3 separate regions of the Homo sapiens genome follow, and regions 1 and 2 are each reported to be linked to region 3. Evidence: microRNA targets listed by miRTarBase, many of them from high-throughput screens and not tested one by one. Region 3 holds a microRNA gene; each other region holds the end of a gene's coding sequence.

Region 1 (7,244 bases), not on the chromosome of region 3:
CATCTCTCAGGTTCAAGGGATTCTCCTGCCTCAGCTTCCCCAGTAGCTGGGATTACAGACATGCGCCACCACACCTGGCTAATTTTGTATTTTTAGTAAAGACGGGGTTTCTCCACGTTGGTCAGACTGGTTTCCAACTCGCAAACCTCAAGTGATCCGCCCGCCTCTGCCTCCCAAAGTGCTGGGATTATAGGTGTGAGCCACCGCGCCCAGCCTGTGTTGTTTTTTAAATCATTTCCAGGCTCATGGTGTATACCTTCTGCGCCAGTCCTAGGTGAATTTCTCCTGGTTGGTGAGTTTTCATTGTTTACCTCTGCTCACACAGGGACTCGAGGAGGGAGACTAGGACTCAGAGTCCTCCTTCATCTTGTCACTTCTCTAAACAATTACTTTTTGTTGAAGACGCCATGTAAGCTGGAATTCAAAGCCATCTCTTTGAACAACTGTGTGAAATAATCGTGCTAAACTGTTATTCTCCTTTAATCGTTCCAACCAAGCACCCACGGGGGCCATTATTCCTCTCCTACAACTGCAAGGCAGTGCCTCACCAACTAGCTTTGTTCCTGAGGCAAGCGGCAGGAACCCCTCTGCTTTCCTCAGTGAGCAAGCGGCCCCTGACCCTGGCGAGTGAGTTTTCTCTTCACAGCCCCCTGTCCCTGCTGCCCACTGAGCCAGCCAGCCCGAGGGTGGAAAAGTCATTCTGGCTCTAAGCTTCCAGCACAGTCCGGGAGACCACACGGGTCCTGGGGAGGGTGGCTAAGCCCGAGGGGCTTTATAGGATGAGTCACAAGAAAGTCCATCTGGTGGGCCCTCCCTGACTCCCCTCCACTGTCCCCGGCTCACGGCGAGGAAGGCAAGGCTGGTGGGGGGGACAGGAAAGGGCTGGGGTCTCTCCCCACCTCCACTGCCAACGCCCTGCAGACCCCCAGGCCACAGCCTTTCCCGGGGCTCCCCCAAGGTATGGGAGGTGGGGCGGGTCCAGTTTACGCTGGTTTCAAAGAAGTGAGAGCGCCCCGCCGCCATGTCATGGAGGGTCCCGCGCCCCCACCCCTTGCCTGGGGTCGTGTGTGGGCAGCCGCAGAAAGCGCCCCGACGGCAGGAGCGGGGTTCCAGGCTGAGACCGGGCCTCGGCGGCGCCCCTTCCTGCCGGGAGTGGCGCATCCCAGGACCCACAGACAAACAGGGCCAGCCAGGGTCACCCGGAGCGCGAAGGCCGGCTATGGGCTTAGGGTGGGGTCTGGTCCCTACGGCCGGCCTAGGGGGAACGCGGGACAGGAGAAGGTCTGGGAAAAACCTGCTTCCGAGGCCTCGGCTTCGGGGCGTCCTCCTGAGCTGGCGCCAGCCCGCAGCGGGGCCGGGCAGGGACGCCGGCCTAACGGTGGGGACCGGCAGGGCCTGGGGGCAGGACGAGACAAGCACACAACCGACGGGGCGGGGCCAGGCGAGGGCACGGGGCCGAAGAAGCTTCTGCCAGGCCCGAGACCCGCACTTAGTTACCTGAGAAGGCGGGAAGGTGCGGCCGCGGGGTGAGCGGCGGACTGACCCAGCTCCAGCGCCTCTGCAGAGGCTTGCAATGGCGTCTCTCGGGCTCTGATTGGTCAGGCCTCCACACGTGAGCCTCTAGGAGCCAATCATGTCGGCCCACCTAGCATGCGCTGATTGGCTCAGGCTGGCCAGGGGCGGGCGCGGTCCTTCCACGGCCCGGTCCCCGCTCCCTTCCCCAGGCCCGGAGGCCCCGCCCGAGCGGCTCCGCTGGGGGCGGTTCTGCTGGAGAGGACGGATCTGCTGGGGAGATGGATATCCTGGAGGGGCGGATCTACTCGGGGGGCGGGTCTGCTGGGAAGGCCGGATCTGCTGTGAGGGGCGGGTCTTCTGGAGGGGCCGATCTGCTGAGGGGGCCGGATCTGCTGCCTGACAGGGCTTCCTGGCCTGGGGAGGAGGCCGTGTCTGGAGCTTGAAAGCCGGCCCCGCTGTGTTCAAGATACAGTCAAACGTTCAGAAGGAGGAGACTCCGGGGGCAGGGTGGTGCCCAGCCAGTGCATGGGGCCAGGGCCACGCTGGTGGCACCCAGGCAGCGCTGCCTCCTGGCTCTCGAATGGCTGTTCTCTGCCCAGAATGCTCTCCCACGGGACACGCGCCTCCCTCCGGGTCTGTGCACGTCACTCTGACAGAGAGGCCCCCTGACCACTCATGAAATAGTAACCCTAACCATTGCTCTCTGCTCCCTGTCCTGCTTGATTTTCCTCCAGGGCAAACACCGCCACTTCCATGTTTATCATCTGTCCTCCATCACTAGGAAAACCAGTTCCAGGAGGGAGGGACTAGTATTCCCAGCCCCTAGAACAGAGCAGCGCATATCACAGGGGCTCAGTAAACATCTGGGGAGGAGTGCCATTCCCAGGAGGCCTCAGACCCCGTCACCTGAGATGAGAGCTGGATCCCGGAGAAGCTCAGGTCTGACCCAGCATTCATTGCTGTAGGAAGGGCTCGTCTAGACTCCAAGGGAGCCGGGTGCGGTGGCTCACGCCTGAAATCCCAGCACTTCGGAAGGCCGAGGCGGGCGGATCACCAGGTCAGGAGATCCAGACCATCCTGGCTAACACGGTGAAACCCCGTCTCTACTAAAAATACAAAAAATTAGCCGGGCGTGGTGGCGGGTGCCTGTAGTCCCAGCTACTCGGGAGGCTGAGGCAGGAGAATGGTGTGAACTTGGGAGCGGAGCTTGCAGTGAGCCGAGATCGCACCACTGCACTCCATCCTGGGGGACAGAGAGAGACTCTGTCTCAAAAAAAAAAGACTCCAAGGGAAAGCTGCCTGGGTCGTGACCTGGCACGTCCAAGTCGCTGCTTAGGCTTGCAAGGGGGTCCAGACCAGGCTGTGGATGGGAAATGGGAGGCTGGGGGAGGATGGAGGCTGAGCAGTGGCTGGATGTTGGGGTGCCCTGTTGAGGGGCAGCTGGCAGCAGCCACGGACACAGGGGTGGGTGCAAAGACACTGAGTTTCTGTTCCAGGAGGAAGGGGGGCCAGCTGGCAGAGGAGAGATCACCCTGGGCAATTTGGTGGTGCCTGGGGTGCACACTTCCCCAGAGGCAGCAGGAGGAGGAGCTGGATACACCCTTCCCTGGGCTTGGAGGAGAGCACGTTCCCTCCCAGCTCCCACCTGGCATCCAGGAGGGCCCGGCCTGGGGTCAGGGCACATGGGGCCCTCCTGCCCTGGGACTGGGCAGCTCCCTGGGGCATTCCCAGCCAGCAGCATCAGGAAGGTTACAGGAGACCCAGACATGCTGCTCCCTAGAGAGGGCTCCTGACAAAGATTTTTTGTGTGGTCAAACTTTAGTTAACTTCCTGAATCTTCTGGTAGGCCCATTGGCCCACTTCCTTGTAAAATGCAGTTTTAGCAAAGAATCTGGCTAAGTCAGTTTAGCAACAAACCTTCATCCTGGAGATCTGATTGGGGTCCTCATGCTTCACCACCCTATGGGTCTGTCTGATTGCCCTGCCTGTCTCCAGCTAGAATCCAGTTAGATGGGTTTCATCAGAATCCCCCAACCCCTGATGTTCCTCAGTCATTTTCCATCCACTGAGCCCACCCTGCTCCTTGGCACCCATGGCAAGCCCTGTTGCATGGTCCCTGTACCTGTAGTGCTGGTCCTGAATAAAGCCTTCCTCACTCAGCTGTAACAAGTGTCACGGGACCATCTTTTCTTTTCTTTTTTCTTTTTTTTTTTTTGAGAGGGAGTCTCGCTCTGTCGCCCAGGCTGGAGTGCAGTGGTGTCATCTCGGCTCACTGCAACCTCTGACTCCCAGGTTCAAGGCGATTCTCCTGCCTCAGCCTCCCGAGTAGCTAGGACTACAGTTGCTTGCCACCTCACCCAGCTTTTTTTTTTTTTTTTTTGTAGTTTTAGTATTAATGGGGTTTCACCTTGTTAGCCAGAATAGTCTCCATCTCCTGACCTCGTGATCCGCTCACCTCGTCCTCCCAAAGTGCTGGGATGACAGGCGTGAGCCACCGCGCCCGGCCTGAACCACCGCACCTGGCCTGAACCACCGCACCTGGCCAGAATCATCTTTTAACAGCTTCCAAACTTGGAGGTCAAACAAGGACTTTCTGGGGAAGCAAGTGGCAGGCAGCAGCTAGGCGTGGGCTGCGCATCCAGCGGATTGAGTGTGGGCGGGACCGCCAGCAACCAGGCAGAGGGGCTGTTCTCTGGGTTGGGGTCAGGAACCTCTTCTGGCCTCAGCCCAGGTTGGCAGACATTTCCCTGCAGGGATCCGGGTCCAGGACTCAGGAGGAGGGACAGTCCCACGGGGGTGCTGGGGGGCAGGAATTCCTGGGTGGGCCGAGGTAAGGGCAGCACAGGGTGACCTGGGGCCCTGGGCCCGGTGGAGCTGAGGAGAGGGACAGGCCTGTGGTCGGGGGTCCTAGGTGGGAGGGAGAGCAGAGGGCAGATGCTTTGCGGGTGGAAGAACCACCCTGGGGGGCGGGAGACCCTGAAGGCGCAGGTTTGTGTTTAGATGGAGGTTGCGCTGGCTGGACGGCCTAGGGAAAATGGGTCTGACTGGATGGAGCTGAGTGAGAATGGTGGGAGGCCCTGCAGCCGCCGTGGAGAGAACATGCGCGGGGGAAAGCCCCGGTCCTCCGGCTGGCGAAATGGACCTCTGGAAGGAATGGCCACACGGTGTGAAATCACTGGTGTTTATTGGCTGTGATTCCATCCGGAGAGAACACACGCAGGGGCCCCGACATGCAGGAGGAGGCGCAGGCGCAGGACAGACGGACAGAGGACACCACGGTCTAAGCTAAGCTCGCGGCCCGGGGCGCCATGCGCTGGGAACGGGGTGCGCAGGTTCTACGAGAGGACGCCCTGTCTGCTCAGAGCTGGCTTTGTAAGGTGTGAAAACAGGAGTTTTTAAAAGACACGACCCGGGAGAAGTCAGTGAGAGGGCACAGGGCGAGCAGGACGGACAGCGACGTCCCCGCGGGCCGCGTCGCTGGGGCGCAGAGGGGCGCGGTGGTCTCTGCCCGGAGGGGCGTCGGTCGTTAGTATTGCAGTCTAACGTTATGGCTTCTCTAAAGCTATGTAAGGTCATGAAGGTCAATGCCAAGCCACGCCCTGGCCCGAAACACGTGGAGACTTGATGCATTTTTGATGTGGACGAAAGGGCCCGGGGGCGAGGCGGCGCCTGTCAAGATAAAACTCATTAAATGCAAAGACCTCATTTACCTGAGATTCAACAAATTGTGATGCAAATTAAACATGAATGGAGGAGAAACAGGGGCTCGGATGCCGCCCCGCAGGGCCACCAGGTGGATTAGGCCACACACGCGCCAGCTGCGCGCAGGGAACCCCGCAGGCCCCACCCGAGGAGCTGCCCACGGAGGAGGTGCTGGGCAGGGGCGCAGGGTCTCCAGCGTCCGGTGCCTCGGGCCTCTGCGGCTCCTGTGGAGGGTGCAGTGTTCAATGGCCGAGGGCAGGGGTCCTCCCCAGGGAGAAGCAGCAGCCGCGTGGGCGGAGAGGCTAGGAGGCCGGGCGGGGGGCGAGGACTTGGGAAGAGCGGGGTGACGGGGGTGGGGGCTGGGCGTCCCCCAAACCTATTGCTTTGTTTCCTTTAGTTTAGAAGTGAACACGGCCGTGGCGTTCGTAAGAAGCAAAACCTTCCAGAGAGGAGAGGAAAGGACGCGGACAGAGACGGATGGACAGGGGCGCGAGGGGGCCAGGCCGGGGGGCGGAGAGCGGCCGCGTGCGGACGCAAATACTCACGGCGGAGCGATCCGAACCCCGGAGTCCGCGTGCAGGAGGGGGACCCAGGCCCCGCCGCCCTCGCCCCGCCCGCAGCCCCCCGTCTGCTATGGCTGTGCTCCTGAGTGCGGGCCCGACAGGCGCCCACCGCCGCGAACGCGCGCACAGGGGTGGTCGCGGGGCTGCCCTTCGGCGGCCCTGGCCTCGGGCGCTGCTGGGTGGGCGGTAAACAGCAAGAGAAAGGGGCGTCCCAGGCGATGGGGCTCCAGCCACCCGCGGGCAGAGGAGCACGGGGCGGACTGGGGGGGTCCTGGGGGCGCGCGCCCCTTGCCGGGTGAGGGAGGCGGCGGGCGCGGGCAGGGCGGGCCTGGGGCTATGGCTTATATCGGCGTGGGGGCTGCGCTCTGCTCGTCCCTCAGGGGCCTCCGCGGAGGATCTGTAGGGGGAGGGGCGGGGGCTCCGCGGGGCCGCTGTCCCGCGCGCGGCTACTTCTTGAGCATGTCCTGCAGCGGCCCGGGCAGGTACTTGATGACGGTGTCCAGGATGCTCTCGTCCTCCTCCTCCACCTCGTCCCCGCAGCCCGGCGGGATGGCCTTCTTGGGCCGCGTCAAGCTCCCCTCGGAGTTGGCCTCCATGGCGGCCTGGGCCTCGGCCTCGCGCTCCTCCTTCTTCTTGATGCCGTACTGCGGGGGAGGCGGGGGTCAGGGCGGGGGTCCCGGCGGCTCCCGGGCGGGCCGCAGCCTCCCTGCGCCAGGGACTGGCCCAGGAACCCCCGAAGGCGTGGGTGCGGCCCCCTACCCCACCAGGCACACAAGGACCCCAGAAGGAGAAGAGACCCCACCCCGGGGGGTCCCTGGAGGAATGGGAAGCCCCCACGGAGAATGGGGGCCAGGAGCTGACATGGGGGGGAGCAGGGAGGGGGAGGCTCCCATCTTCCTTGAGAGGAGAGAGGGCTGTGGCCCCACCTCTGGCTCCAAACCCAGCCCAGCCCCTGGCATCCTGCCTTCCAGGAAGCCTCCGGCCCGGGGCAGGGAGGGGTGGGCAGGATGCTGCGTGGCAGAGGTGGGGAGAAACAGTCAACCCGCAGCTGACCCTCCTGCCCAGTGCCTGGTCCACGACCTGCATTCACACTCCCGGGCCTGGCCAAGGCTGCCTGGATGCGGCCGCGGCCCCAGCAGGGCCACTCCCTGGCAGGCCGCTGCAGCTCCGTGGGCAGCCGGCAGAGGGTCCTGGGCTGCGGTCACTTCCAGGCACTGGGTGTCCTGGAATCCCGCCTAGTCGTGCCCTCAGCCAGTATGCCTGGGCCTCACCGACCCCCTGCCCACCCGCGTTTCTCATCTCCCGTGAGTGCGTCTGCCCTCCGTAGTAGCTGAATATTGTCCCCCTCAAATTCATATTGCCTGGAGCTTCAAAGGTGATCTCATTCGGAAACAGGTCTTTGTTGATCTCATAATGGTAAGGATGGGGACGAGGCCATCCTGGATTTGAGGGGCCTCAAGTCCA
Region 2 (7,244 bases), not on the chromosome of region 3:
TCAAGAGGCCTTATGTGGATGAGTTCCTGAGACGCATGGGGGAACTCTTTGAATGTGTTCTCTTCACTGCCAGCCTGGCCAAGGTACCTAGGGGTGAGAGGGAAGAACCAGGAGTGGGTGTGGTGGCCACGGGGGTGGTCCAGCAGCTCCCTTTTGGTCCCTAGGGTTATACAGGAGGACCAGGAGTGTATCCAAACTAAGGCATCTTCTCTCCTCCTAGTATGCCGACCCTGTGACAGACCTGCTGGACCGGTGTGGGGTGTTCCGGGCCCGCCTATTCCGTGAGTCTTGCGTGTTCCACCAGGGCTGCTACGTCAAGGACCTCAGCCGCCTGGGGAGGGACCTGAGAAAGACCCTCATCCTGGACAACTCGCCTGCTTCTTACATATTCCACCCCGAGAATGCAGTGAGTGCTCCTGATGCGTCTCCACGGTAGGGATTGGGAGAGGAAGCAGACTGGAACTGTGGGCTCCACCAGAGAAGTACACCCCTCCAGGAAGACCCAGCCACCCTCTAGGGCTCTGGGGCGAGGGAGGGGGAAGCAGCAGTCGGGAGATTGACACCACATCTTCCCCCCACCAGGTGCCTGTGCAGTCCTGGTTTGATGACATGGCAGACACTGAGTTGCTGAACCTGATCCCAATCTTTGAGGAGCTGAGCGGAGCAGAGGACGTCTACACCAGCCTTGGGCAGCTGCGGGCCCCTTAGCCTGCCCTGCTTCCAAGCGACGGCCATCCCAGTAGGGGACTTTCCCACACTGTGCCTTTACGATCAGCGTGACAGAGTAGAAGCTGGAGTGCCTCACCACACGGCCCGGAAACAGCGGGAAGTAACTGGAAAGAGCTTTAGGACAGCTTAGATGCCGAGTGGGCGAATGCCAGACCAATGATACCCAGAGCTACCTGCCGCCAACTTGTTGAGATGTGTGTTTGACTGTGAGAGAGTGTGTGTTTGTGTGTGTGTTTTGCCATGAACTGTGGCCCCAGTGTATAGTGTTTCAGTGGGGGAGAAGCTGAAAGACCAAGACTCTTCCCAAGTTAGCTTGTCTCCTCTCCTGTCACCCTAAGAGCCACTGAGTTGTGTAGGGATGAAGACTATTGAAGACTCCATTGCCAAACCATGGCCTTTCCTCAGTGTTGTAAGGCCTATGCCAAGGATAAAGGAAGGGTATGCCTTTGGGTACTCCAGGCACACACCTTTCTGAAATCCTTCTCCAGCCAGCTGCTGCAGACAAAAGATCACATTTCTGGGAAGATGAGAACTTGTTTCCAGACCAGCATCCAGTGGCCATCAGGTCTTGTGGCCCAAAGGCTATGCTTGCCTCCGGCTGAGTGCCTGGGATAGGCCTTTTCTATGTCTCCCCAAGGCTGGGGTGCTGAGCCTGCCTTCCTCACCACCTAGCCATAGTCTCAAACCTGTGGGGAAGGAGGTTTTCTCCCTGCCCGGGAAGAGGACAGATAACTGATTTCCGTTCTTTTGACTGTGTTTTAAAATTCTCTTTCTAAACACAGAGTGTTGGGCCTGGTTTGTTTCTGACAAAGTTACAGTCCTGGGCCTGTAATGAATGTCGGCGGCGCTGGGGTTGCAGGGAAAAGACAAATCCTCAAAGCGTGGACGTGTGTCCCCATGGCTTGTGGATCAGCTAAGCTCGGGATCATTTCCATAAGTCTGCTTTTCAGGGATTCTCTGCTGGTGCTGGTGCAAGGACTTCTGTTCCAAAGGCTGGGAAAAACTAAGCTGTCCCAGCCCCTCCCATTTCTTGGGCAGGGCTCTTTTCCTGTTGTGTCTTCCCCCAGGGCCTGTCCTGTACCGAGCTCTGTCTGTTCCAGCCTTCATCCTTCCTGGCTGTTGCTTTTCCTCTTAAGGGCCTCAGAACTCTTGCTCTTCCTGGGCTGAGGGGGAATGAGTGTTCTTGCCATTTGCCAGCCTAATGCGCATGCTTTCTGCCTCTGGTAACAGGAGTGAGTGAGCCCCTCAGACCTGCACTCTGGGTGTCTCCTGCTTTCAAAGGTTCTTAATAGTGAATGCTTTAAAATTAAAGTCATCACGAAATGGAAGTTTTCCCAGGGTGGAAAATAAGAGGAAGTGCTGCTGTAATTGGGAGCACAAGGGGCCTCCCAAAAAGGAGCCCCACCTCAGCATCACTGCCTTAATCGTGGCCTCCCTGGGGTGGGTGGGGTTCTCTCCTCCCTCCCTCCCTCCTCCTGGGGTGGGAGGGCGCTCCTGTTCCCATCTCTGTGTTCCCTGGAGGCAGGTATCACAAAGCATTTGTGAATTGCTTTAGGTGCAGGGACACCACCCACTCAGGACTCTTCCCCATCATCCCTTCCATTGCCACACCCTAGATCCAGCCTCAGGAACTAACAAGTTTTGAGAAAAGCAGGTAGTAGAGCAGCAGCTTCGTGCTCTCAGCGGTGGCTGGCTGGCATTTTTCTCTAGCGTTGTGGTGCCACCTTCCCTTCTTGTCCCAAGGTTATAAGGCCTTGTCTTTCTCTTTGGAATCATAAAGTGGAACAGAGTCCCCAGAACTCATGTGGCCATTTCCGCCAGCATCACTCCCCGGTGCCTATGGGGTCCCGGTGTACCTAAAGGGAGAAGGACCCCATGTGCTAGCCAGAAATATACTGTCTCTTGAAGGAAAGCAGGAGCTCAGACTCTTAGAGCCAGCTGTGGCTTCGGACCCAAGGCCTGACCTAGGCTGCTATCCTAATATTGCAGGAGGGGCCTCTCTTCCAAGCCCCACCCTAAGGGTTAGCCCTTGGCCAAATCTTTTGCCGTCTAGGCCCAGCCAGGCTTTTCTGACTAAATAAGCAATAAGAGGCTCTAAGCTGACTGAGTTGCAAGGACCCTTTCCGCCCTCCCTTGGATCTCCATGTTTTTCCAGATGGCGGAAGAGCATGTGCCACCCCCTTTCCTAACAGACTTGTCCAAGTGCTTGGCGTGGGACCCATGACCAAAGCCCAGGATGGCTTGGTGGGAGTGTCCCTGCTGCATCTGCATGAAGCCCCTGCTTTTTAGGCCTCACTCCCATCAGAACCCTGCCTGCCCACCTGCAACTCCCCCCCAACAATGCCATTCCCACTTGCCCCAGAGAAGCTACTCGGCCAAACCTAGCCAGGGTCTGTTCTTGTGGACCAGAGCCAGCCTAGTCATTATTTGCTGTCGGGTTTCCAGTTTCACCGTGTGTTAGGGTGAGGGATGATTGTAAAATTTGCTCCTCAAAGGAATCAGGCCAGACTCAATTTTGGAGGGCAAGACAGGGAGGAGGCCGCTTCATCCCAGACTCTCTTCTAGGGCTTCCCACCATCAGCCCCTCCCACTTGAGACTGGTCTTTGGGAGGCAATAGGCCACCATGCCTGGTCAGCACCAATTCAAGCCATGCCAGGAATCTGCCTACCTGCCAGGTTCAGTTCTTTTAAGGTGCCTCTTCAGGGACACAGTGTGTCTCTCTGATTGGGCTTCTAAATCAAAAGCCTGATGTTCGTGTCCCTCTCATAGGGGGAGCTTTGGACACAGGACCAGTTTGGAAAAGGGTCAGGTAAGGGTTTCCACTCTGCACATTGTAGAGGGAACACTCTGTAGGCCCATGGGTCCCTTACTAGAGAGGTTGAGTGAATTTGCCTTCAGTTAACATGGGACCTTCTGTTTAGCTTCCTCTTGCTTCCCAAAGATTTTAAGCATTTTGTAAATGTATAAACTCACCTCTGGTAACAGTGGCCCAGACGCTGCTTTGTGCTAAAAGCATGGGAAATGTAAAGGCAGTCTTTCTCTGGGAAATGGATGCTATTCTATTCTGCTGCCCCTACCTGTTCCTGAGGCCTCATTTAGAAAGAAAATCCCCTCAGAAGGCTGTCTGGCACCCAGTGTCCTAGCCAGGCCAAGTATATGAGAAAGGTAAGTCCATTTTCCCCTTCAGGTCCTCAGTGGATTACTTAACCACTGCTGTCCCTCGGTCCCTTTTTCCTAAACGGGTTTAGTTCTGTCTTTTTTCTCCTTTTTTCTAAATGCTGGTAAATATTTACATTCAGCCAGGGAAGAGGAGGCCAGAGGTCGGGCCAGCTGCCCCATTCTTTTAACGTTGTAGGGCCTGCCCATGGAGCGGACCCTCCTCTTTGGGCCTCGTGAGCTTTTTTGCTTATCATGTTCCATTTCGTGCCGCTTTCCCCCTTCAAGATGCCATTTGGAGGGTAGGGGATCTGCTTCCCACTGTGACTGGGCTATGGGATTCTGACTACCTTGCTTACAGATTCATGGTTTGATAAATTTGTTGTATTCAAAAACTTGAAATGCAGGACGCCATTAAGTGTCTGTTTATATTTTTGGAATATTTGTATTACTTACAATTAATTAATAAAAGTGGGTTTAAAAAACCTTTCCAGGAATGTGAGCTGCCACCAACCTTCATTGGCCCTTAAGTGTTCACTGGGCCCATGGCAAGCACCGCCTTTCTTCTCGCAACCCCTTCCATCATGAAGCAGCTGCACCCCCGGGCTGAGTGGGGTGTTGCACCCACCGGGAGGCCAGCTGCAGATGCCACACAGGGCTTCCGCTCAAGGTTACACAAGTTCTGCTGTGATCAACCCCATTGCAGTCAGGTGCTTAGCACGTGTATATGCTTGATGTCCTATTGACTTCTGGGCATGAACCAGAAGCCCTAAGGGAATGGATTATTATTTTTTTTTTTTTTTTTGAAATGGAGTCTTGCTCTGTTGCCCAGGCTAGAGGCAGTGGCATGATCTCAGCTCACTGCAACCTCCACCTCCCAGGTTCAAGCGATTCTCCTGCCTCAGTCTCCTGAGTAGCTGGGATTACAGGCGCCTGCCAGCACGCCCGGCTCATTTTTGTATTTTTAGTAGAGATGGGGTTTCACCATCTTGGCCAGGCTGTTTTCAAACTCCTCACATTGTGATCCACCCACCTCAGCCTCCCAAAGTGCTGGGATTACAGGCGTGAGCCACCACCACACCCAGCCCTGGGAATGGAGTCTTGATTCTTCTCTGCCCCTCACTGATTCTTCCAAACTGGAAACCCTGAAGCTGAGAGCCCAGCATGGTTCCTGGCAAACAGCAGGCACTCAAATATTGATTGGTTTACTGTATGACTAGTAGAGACCCCAACGAGCAAAACTGTGGCCTAATAAAATTCTGGCTCCTCTCCCAGACTTCCCCTCCCTTTGAGAAATGCCAGAAGCTTCTTAGGGAGGCTCTTGCCAACCTAGACATCACAGGCACTCATGGGGCAGCTCCAGCCTCTTCCTCCTGTCATCACCATAATGCATCCATATCTACAATATGGCAAATTTCATATCCTTCCAACCTCTTTCCTGCATTATTGATGGGCTGTGTGCACTTTTTAAAAAATCAATTAGATCAGGGCGTGGAGCTGGAGTTCAAAGAAGCCTTTAAAAGTCTGCTCTTCTGTTTTGCTGTTTTGAATAGGCACAGATAAAGCTTTCCCTCTGGTTTGAATAAGCCAAGCTCAGTGCTAGGTTGGCTCTGATTGGCCAGGACTAGGAAAATGCGGTTAAGATGCAAACACAAGCAAATATAACCCAGTATCTCTGCGGCCATTACTAAGCTAAGGCAGCAGGACCTGGAGCCTCCTGCTTTGGAGTGGTTCTTCAATACTGCTGCTGCTTACGCGCCGGGAAACTGGGAAGGCTGGTGAGCGAGAAGGCAAGGTAAGGTCTCTGATTTACGGGGGCATGCCAGTTAATCCTCCTGAATGAGGAAGAAATGAAAGGAAGAGGAGCTTGAGAGTCCCTTGGCTTTGTCTTCTGAGATGAGGCTTTTAAAATGAACCAGGAGTCTGGCTGGCCAGTTTTGCAAACTTCTTGTTCAGAAGAACCCCTTAGAGGCAGCTGAACATATAGGGCACATTTTCAAAAGCTGGGAAAGACAGACCCCTTTCACCTATCCCTAGAGAAAGATGGTATGGAGCAAGGCAGGAGGAGTTAAAACCAGCTTCCTGGCCCAGAGAGGTGGCTTACACCTGTAATCCCAACACTTTGGGAAGCCAGGGCATGAGGATTGTTTGAGCCCAGGAGTTTGTAACTTGTGACCATCCTGGGCAACATAGTGAGACCCTGTCTCTACAAAAAAAAAAAAAAAAAAAAAAAAAAAAAAAGCCAAGCATGGTGGTGCACACCTGTGGTCTCAGCTTCTCAGGAGGCTGAGGCAGAAGGATCACTTGAGCCCAGGAGGTGGCGGTTGCAGTGAGCCGTGATTGTACCACTGCACTCCAGCCTGGGTGACAGAGCAAGACCCTGTCTCAAAAACAACAACAACAAAAAACAGCTTCCTCTGCTCAGGGTCCGTCCAAAAGGGCATCTCTGAGAATTACAGGCCACTGGCTTTTAACCTGACATTTCAAAACTGTGCCCCACACCCAAGGGGTTTCTGCAGTCCTCTCAAAGGATACTGAATTAGGATTTAGGGAGAAGGAGAGACCCAGCTTTGGGAGATTTGATGTCAGAACTGTGTTTTCTGTGTGTTCCAGTGTGACAGGAAGTCCCTTCCTGGAGCTTATCCTCTCGCATTCGGGGTGCCTGGCCCAGGGAGCTCCTTGATTCCTAAATTCCTGCTGGGAAACGGGACAGGTTTCAGCCTCTGAGGCTCACAGTCCTAATTGCTGCCGGCTGGTTTGGCTTTTACCAGGGTGACAGTTCTCTGTCTCCAAGGAATGAATTCAGTGGCCCTTGTCCCCTTCCCCTAGTTGGCTCATGGCTTTTGCCTTTAATGACTGCTACGTAGGGTCTGAAGAAAACCCAAACACCATATTTCCTGGCAATTCTGAGCAGCACAGGGTGGGGCAGCACAAGTTATCAAATTAAATTCTCAAACACTGGCTGCTCCGCACCATTGCCTTGCTTTAGTCCTGCTACAGCAGTAGACAAAGCGAGTCTGCTTTGAGCTTTATGGTTTTTTGCCAAAGTCCATACTAGATGGCGCATGCTCTCCAAACTTGGCTTTGTCCATCAAGGTTCAAGAAAACAATGGTCAGACATGTTCCTCTTAACAAACAGTATGTCCCCAAACAGCAAAAATGCATACAGTCCTTTCTGGGTGAATTTTTAAATCTTACATAAATCCATCAACCCCATCCTTTTTCCTTTGCCTCTTGGGAGAAATTAATCTAGCTTTACATTAATTATGCATGTTATCAGATTTCAAGCTCCTTGAGAGCAGGTATTTTAATTCTATAAAGCCTCTACGTGGCCTTGGACATGGGTAGGTGCTTAATT
Region 3 (7,512 bases):
CTTAGCACAGCACCTGAGAAATACCCTTTACAGTCTGGCCACTGGCTGAACATTCTTTCACTCTCCATGCCACACTGCTCTGTGAGTACCATCTGAAGGTCCTCTCCCTTTTCTCTGTCTTCTAAATGTTCACTCTTCAATATCTAACTCAAATATCCTCTTCTCTAACTTGTCCAGGAAGAATGAGTAAGGCCCTTTCCTTTGTTCCCCAGGCTCTTAGTTTCTCCATCTCTAATCACGTAGATTACAGCCCTTTCTTTGGTTTTCTCCAGGGGACCAAGGAGTGGGGCTCTGCCTTTCTCATGTCTGCTCTGCCTTCACGGTCCCCCACAGTGTCTTCAGTGGATGGCCAACCTCTCATGAACAGGATGTCCTCTTGTCTGAGGTTCTACTTTGTTCCAGCCATGGAGTCATACTCTCTTTATCTTTTGACTATCCAAAGGTGTTCTGTTGGACGACTGATGCCTTCCTCCAAGGTACTTTGGGCTCCCAAGTGTGCAGTTGACATTTGCTGTGCCTTCTCCACCAGGCTTTAGTTTTTGATGTATGCTGAGCTTCAGTGGAGATTTGCTAGCCTTGGGCTTTCTGTGTTCTTGAATCTCTCAGAGTCCAGAAGAAAAGGAAAGCTGACACTTTCTAGGAATGACCTGTGAGAAGAGAGGTTGGTGTCTTGCTGCTAAGTTCCGCTTGATTCTGAACTAAGTCACCATGGGCCAGAGGAGGCAGGGATAAGAGGAGTGGTTTCTTGGCCACCAGAATGGAAACGTTTTTGTTTTCTTGTGTGCTTTTGTGGAAATGGTGGCAGTTGCTCACTAAAGAGAACTAAAACCCTTTTACTAGAGCCCCACCAGGTCTGAAGAGGATGGGCGCGTGGGAGCCATTATCTTGTAAAGGACGCTATTGAGACCTTGCTACTGCTGCAGTGAAGAGCACAGGAAAAGCCAAGCTTAAAAAACACTGGGCGAATCCTAAGAACTTTTCATGCAGAAACACATGCATGATGAGAAGAGAATCTTCATTACAACATTGTTTGACACAGAAAAACGAGACTCAGCTTAAATGCTCATTAGTTAGTGATTGGTTGATTAAGTTGTGATAAAATGGAACACTAATACAGCTGTTTAAAAAATTAGTAAAAAAAAATCAGTATGTGAGATGATGCACCTGTTAATTAACTCAACTTAGCCATTCCACAATGTATACATCATTCAAAACTTCACATCATATATTATAAATATATACAATTTTTATTTGTGAATTAAAAATTAATCTAAAAAAATTAGTGGCTATATGAAGTAATTGGGAACAATCTTGAAGCTATATTAACTACCAAAGAGCAAAGTCAACCTTAACAATGCTGACTTTTTAAAGAATAGTGCCTAGAACACTGTGTGGAGTATGCTAACAGCTACACACTAATGCACAGCCACCAACCCCAGATCAGTTACGTGAACTTCTGCATTCACAAACACACTTAACACACTCTGTGGCTATTGCCTCTTTACTGACCTGTAAGTCAGTTCTAGAAGACAGACGATCCATGAAGGCAGGTCCTAGCCTGCCCATTTGCATTGGTATCTCCAAGGCCAAGCTAGAGAAGGCACACAATAGGCTTTCCACTAATATTTGTGAATGAATGAATGAACAGAGAGAGGAGTTTTCTTTCCACAGTTTCCTTCTACCTGCTACTCCTTGAGCATATGAGGCTGGAATCTAAGCCCTGAGGTCACTCACTGCTCTCCTGGGTACTATCCCTGGCCTCCCGTCCTTTTCCTTGAGCTTCTGTGCTCTGCAAGGCTTTCTCATTATCCTTTAGGCTACAGAGAAACAAGGAGACGGGAGAGCCTTGAAATGGACCTTCAAGATTACAATGTGTAGCTGACATTGTCAGTTAAGTTGGGCAGATCTGACTTCGCTGATTAAGTGGATGTATGAGCCGATCCTCCCCAGAAGCTGGGATCAGCTTCCCCATCTGATGGTGAGTCAGACCTGCTGGGGTTTGGGTCCTCGCTCCAGCATGGCTGCCTGTGTGACCTTGGCCACTTTACTTAACCTTGCTGAATCTCAATTTCCTGATCTGTAAAGGAAGCTAAAAATGCCTCTCTTGAGGTTGTAGTGAGGATTAAATGTGATAGCATAAGTGAAAGTGCCCTTTGAAGAAAGAGGAAGGCGAAAGCGCTTATTGTGTCAGGAGAAATGTGTGGAGAGCCCCCTGTTGTTCTCAGGTGTCTCATCCTTCCCAGGGAAAAATCCCCATGCCAAGTCAGAAGAGGTTATAATTTGGCTCTTACTCTTTTATTCAGGCACTTCTTTCGGCTGCCCAGGGTTTTCAGCTTAAGCAAATAAATTACCCTTCTCCACTGGACTCTGTGTTCTGCAGCCAGCCATATGTTTAAGCTTGATAGAGATTTTTATCTGGCTTGGTAATATTACCCAGCAAGGGATGACATTTCTTATCAGAGGCCCTGAGGAATCAGAGATAGGAGCCCTTTCTTTTTCCTGGCCGCCAGGCCTCCATGTGCAGGGCTGGCAGGGAGGCTGGGAGGGGCTGGCTGGGTCTGGTAGTGGGCATCAGCTGGCCCTCATTTCTTAAGACAGCACTTCTGTTAGCTGACCTACACAGAAGCAGGTCATTTCGAGATGTTTGCGTCTTGGAGCCACTGATAGAAGCAGGGCAAGGGAGAGTGAATGAGGAAGGAAGGCGGGAGTGTGATGACGCATGCCCAGCTTTGCGCGGAGGCAGAGCACTTGCCTGTGTGGGGCCCTGCCCTTCTCTTGAGAGGCAGGCGGGCCCTAGCTGCAGCGTCAAGGTCTGGGGATTCTGTGGCTCTGTAGGGTGAAGGGCACTGGAGACCTACCAGGGGCTGGGCCATTGGAGTGGTGGGTGCTGGGGAGCTTCCGTGGGCCCCTCCAGGTCCACTCCTTGCTCTTCTCTGCCTTGTTTTGTGCCCAGAAGGCTGACCTGTGTGGATGCATTATCAGGGTGGATGCAACACAGGGCTGCCATGCTCTCTGGTATCAGTTTGGAAGGCACTGGCAGGATGGGAAGGCAGGCGGGGAGTGAGGTCAGGGGGCCTATCCTTCCACTGCCTCCCTGCTGCTCCCTGACTGATTCAGGTAAGGTTTACACCGGGGCTCTAGGTTTGAATTTTGATTCTGGCATGTACTTGCTGTGTGATATTAGGCAAGTGGTGGAACCTCTCTGTGCGTCCGACTTCTCATCTATAGTAACGCTTTTGCATTCCATTGATCTCTTTGCCTCTCATTTGCCCTGAATGCTGAAGGAAAGGACACTGCTGTATCCCCTGAGGGACTGTCTGAGCCCAAAGTACACTGGGGACAAGGGCTTCAGGGTGGGCAAGGAGATGACCGATGATCACGTGATTTGGAACTATAGCCTCCATTGGAGACACGTGCTCTGGGCTCTTTCCCTCCTGAGTTTTGGGAAGTCCTGGCCTGTGCAGCCTAATTCTCAAGTACTAATCTTGCAATCATAAGAAGAGGAAGGAGAAGTGGTTTTCCCTCTCCCTGGACCCATTCCAGCCAGCAGTTCCTGACTTTGCTTCCTTCCTGTTGGTGCCCACTCTGTTTCCTTCCATCCCTTCCCCAACCTCTCCCATCCCATGCCTCATGTTGGGCAACTTGAGTTTAACTGTCTCTTCTTCCAGTGGCCAAGTCCAAATTCTGAAAGCACAGTTCTGACCATGTCCCTGTCCAACTCAAAAACAGTAGCTCCGTGTCACCCACAGGCTTGAAGTCAGACCTCTCAGGGGGCATTAAGTCCACCGCAACATCACTCCAGCCTGTGAATAAAGACTGAATGCCTCCGAGCCTCTTATGTGGGGAATCAGTTCTGGTAAACAGGTCTCACTTCTTGTCTTTTAAACACTACTTGCTTTCCTTGACGTCTGTGCTTTGATCCCATTGTTTTTTCTCCCTTGGATGCCTGAGAGATCCATGGGCTCTGGCTTCAGAGAGTGCTGGGTTCAGACCTCAGCTCCAACAGTTGCTGGCTCTGTGACCCTAGGAATGTCACCTCACCACTCCAAGCCTCTGTATCCTTGACATTAACCTGGGCTGATAGTTCCTACCTGCAGGGTTCTTGTGAGAAGAACCTGTCTAAAGGCTCCTACTGGGGCTTGACTTGTCAGATAAATGAATGGGGTTTTCCCTAACCTTCTAATTGACTACCCCACTGATTATTCAAACTCCACCTGTCCTCAAGTTCCATTCCATCATTCACTTCCTCTGTGGGTTTTTCTGCCACAAAGTCATCTTCCTCTGTTTGAAAGACTCTTAGTTCCTCATGTATGACAGCAAGAGTGGACCTCATCTCTTTCTTTTTGTGTCTGACTTCCCAGCACAGTCTCAATTTCTTCAGGGCATTGACTGTGGTGTAAGATTCTCAGCTTGAGCACTGGAACCATTTATGGGACGATTGAGTATTCAACTCCAAGAGAATGAAAGAGAGTCACTTGTTCTTTCATTGAACGAAATTGATTGAGTGCACATGATATGTTGTGTCTGTGCTTCACACTGGAGTTGTAAGGATGCATAAAATGAAGATTCTGTCTTCACATAGCCTATCATCCAGTGAGGAGGTTGCATTATTGGGAATCTGTGCCAAGCCTGGATTGCATAAGACATAGGTAGCTGAGAACCTGGTGCTGACTGGGGACTGGGGGAAGTTCTGTGCCCAAGGAGAGGAGGACTCTTCCCTTCAGATGGATGCCCATAATTTTATCTTTAACTTTTAAGAATTTGGCTTTAATGTGCCTCAATGAAGACCTCCTTATGTTTAATAAATTACAAATTATTTGGACTTCATGGATTGAGATGTTTATTTTCCTCTCCAGATTTGGAGAGTTCTATGTATTTTTTTCTTTAAATAAACTTTCTATCACCTTCTCCTCTGCTTTTATTCCTCCTCTTGAGTTCCCATAATGTGTATTTCAGTTCACTTGATGGTGTCCCATAAGTCCCATAGGTTTTCTTTTTCATTTTTTTTTCTTTTTATTCTTCTGACTAATTTCAAATGGCCTGTCTTTGACCTCATTGATTCCATCTTCTGGTCGATCAAGTCTGCTGCTGAAGTTCCTTATAGAATTTTTCAGTTCAGTCATTTTGCTTTACCACCAGAATTTCTGTTTGGGTCTTTTTTTATGGTTTATCTCTCTTTGTTGAACTTCTACTTTGTTTATGTATTGTTTTTCTGATTTTGTTGTTTATGTTCTCTTTAAGTTGAGTTTCTTCAAGACAATTATTTTGAATTCTTTGTCAGACAATGTATAGGTCTCAATTTCTTTAGGATTGGTTACTGGTGCTTTAGTTTGTTTTTTAGTCATGTTTCCTTGTCTATTTGTAACCCTTGGGGTCTTGTGTTGATGTCTACATATTTTAAGAAGTAGAGATCTCTTTTATTCTTTACCAATTAGCTTTGGCCAAGAAAGCTGTTCACCAGTCAAGATATTTTGGGTGGATTGGCTGGCAGGGTCTGAGGGCAAGTTTACTGCTGGAATTCTTAAGCGGGCTGGCCTGGTGCCTGAGTCCATGGGTACAGGCCTAGATTCTGGGTCCCTGGGGGCCAGACTGGCACTGAGATACAGTGGGATGGCTTTATTGACTGTGTTCATGTCTGTAGCATGCGTCTGTGAAGGCCAACCTGGTACTAGGATCTACACTGATGTTGGGTGCTTACTTCACTCTCCTTCCTCCACATGAAGGGTTTCTCTCTTCATGCTGCACTGTGCTGTCTTGGGGGAAGGGTGATGTGAGTGATGTGAAACTCTTATTCCTACCCTTTTCAATGCATCTTTTATTATTTCTATGCTCCACCCAGCTGCTGTAATTGCTCATCTGGATTTCTTAGCTCTTGTGAAGGTATATTTTTCATGGGTGGTTGTTCAAATTGCTGTTTCTATGAAGGGATAGACACTGGAGACTACTATTCTGCCATCTTGCTCACATTACTCTTCTCTTCATAGTATTATTTAAAATGATACATTTAGTTTTGTTTATTTCACATCTGTATTCCTTCACTAGATTGGGATCCTGTAAGGGGAAGAATGAGGTCAATTGTGTTTACCACAGTCATAACAATAAAAACCAGTGCTGTTGTCACACTATGTGCAGGGCACAGTTTTAAGTTCTTTATGTTTACCAAATTATTTTATCCTCATTAGACCCAACTGAGATATACTGTCACTTCATTTTACAGATGAAGAAACCAAGGCACACAAAGGCTAAGTAATGTGGTCTAGCTCTCCTATGAAGACAGTAGATGGTAAAACCAGGATTTTAAACCTCACAGTGGCTCCAGGATTTGTGTATCTAACCACTCTGCCAGACCTTTCTAGTGCTTTCTTCTAGTAACCACCCCAGCAAAGATGCTCAGCAAATGGGTGGTGCATGAAACAAAGGGTCATTATCCTATTTCTTGGGTAAGTTCTCACTGCAGTTTGTGCTCTGGGCACAGAGTTAACAGCATAGTAAAGAGGAGGGGACCTGGATCTAGGAATTTAACACAGCTAGATTGAGATCTGAGCTCACTCATCACTAAGTGACTATGAGCAAAGTGTTTAACTTCATTAAGTCTTGGTTTTGTTAGATCAACATGGAAGAAATGCATTAATAATTTCCTATTAATCTTACATTAATGGTGGAAAAAATGAGAGTATAGATTATAGTGGGTGCTCAGACAGTGTCATCTGCCATCTTGGAGGGCTATATATACATATATATATACACACACACACACATATATATGTATTTTATATATATTGTATATATAATACCTATATATGTGTATTTTATATATATGGGTATTATATATATAGGTATTAATATATATAGGTATTATTATCAGCTTTAGCTTTTTCATCCATGAGATGAGAATTTGATGTAGTCCTGCCTGATGTCCACACAGGCTCCTCAGAATGGCTTTGTTTTACTAGAGATGTTACCCCTAGGAAACAAGCTCAATCCCTTGCCCCTCAGTGGACTAGAGGCAGCATGTTTATGAGACAGGAAAGGATGTGAGTGATGTGAGTTTCTTAGCTGGCTTTGGAACAGAACAGAGGCTCTTTACGATGATGCCAGTGCTCCTAATTAATTATCATAACAAGTCTCCTGTTCTCAGCATCTGTCAGCAGGTACAGCTGCACCAGCACAGTGGACTGGCTGAGCAACCAGAAGGGTTGGGGCAAGGCCAGGCCAGGGCAGCCAGCCTGTATCTCCAAGTGCCCAGCTGGTTCCGTCCTTGTATCTGACAGGGCCCTCTGATCTTCCTGCATACAATGGATTGCAGGGAAAAAGAAACTTCCTGGCCTGATTGACACAAATTTGTAGGAAACAGCTGCCTTTAGTGGGGACAAAAAAGCAAAATCCAGTGTGAGTGATAACCTCTTGCCAGTCTGGGTTCTGGGTTGCATATCTGCTGGTGACTATAGGAGGTGGTGGGAGGATGTGAATTCCTACAAATGCTAAGTTAGCATCCAGTGTGTGACAACAGGG

Evidence for each region. The annotated mature microRNA hsa-miR-1207-5p reads UGGCAGGGAGGCUGGGAGGGG and lies in region 3 at 2,528-2,548, shown strand. An mRNA with a match to its seed (bases 2 to 7 or 8) in the 3' UTR can be bound and repressed. Matches are read on the target gene's strand: a 7mer-m8 pairs with bases 2 to 8, a 7mer-A1 pairs with bases 2 to 7 and ends in A, and an 8mer does both.
Region 1: miRTarBase lists CPLX1 as a target of hsa-miR-1207-5p. Seed matches in the 3' UTR shown: 7mer-m8 at 6,097-6,103, 7mer-m8 at 5,472-5,478 and 7mer-m8 at 5,392-5,398.
Region 2: the mRNA of CTDSP2 is a reported target of hsa-miR-1207-5p. Seed matches in the 3' UTR shown: 7mer-m8 at 1,437-1,443, 7mer-m8 at 3,037-3,043 and 7mer-A1 at 3,398-3,404.

What each region holds. Positions count from the first base shown.
Region 1 is chr4:780,275-787,518 of GRCh38, forward strand. It overlaps CPLX1 (complexin 1), which reads right to left. Exons shown (of 4, transcript NM_006651.4): 4 at 4,683-6,424. The coding sequence ends at 6,227. LOC124900163 (chloride intracellular channel protein 6-like) reads right to left here and starts at 1,574. Exons shown (of 2, transcript XM_047416474.1): 1 at 1,498-1,574. It overlaps PCGF3-AS1 (PCGF3 antisense RNA 1), which reads right to left and starts at 1,575. Exons shown (of 3, transcript NR_171661.1): 1 at 1,498-1,575. RefSeq lists enhancers at 690-1,407, 1,408-2,124, 2,125-2,842, 4,837-5,708 and silencers at 1,334-1,413, 1,514-1,863.
Region 2 is chr12:57,817,066-57,824,309 of GRCh38, reverse strand. CTDSP2 (CTD small phosphatase 2) reads left to right here. Exons shown (of 8, transcript NM_005730.4): 6 at 1-83; 7 at 221-406; 8 at 583-4,383. The coding sequence ends at 708. It overlaps AVIL (advillin), which reads left to right and starts at 5,576. Exons shown (of 20, transcript NM_006576.4): 1 at 5,576-5,681.
Region 3 is chr8:128,046,632-128,054,143 of GRCh38, forward strand. It overlaps MIR1207 (microRNA 1207), which reads left to right and starts at 2,521; the gene lies at 2,521-2,607. The region is part of intron 6 of PVT1 (Pvt1 oncogene); the gene reads left to right. RefSeq lists enhancers at 1,600-3,716, 2,236-2,781, a silencer at 1,864-2,047 and a cis regulatory region at 2,660-2,912.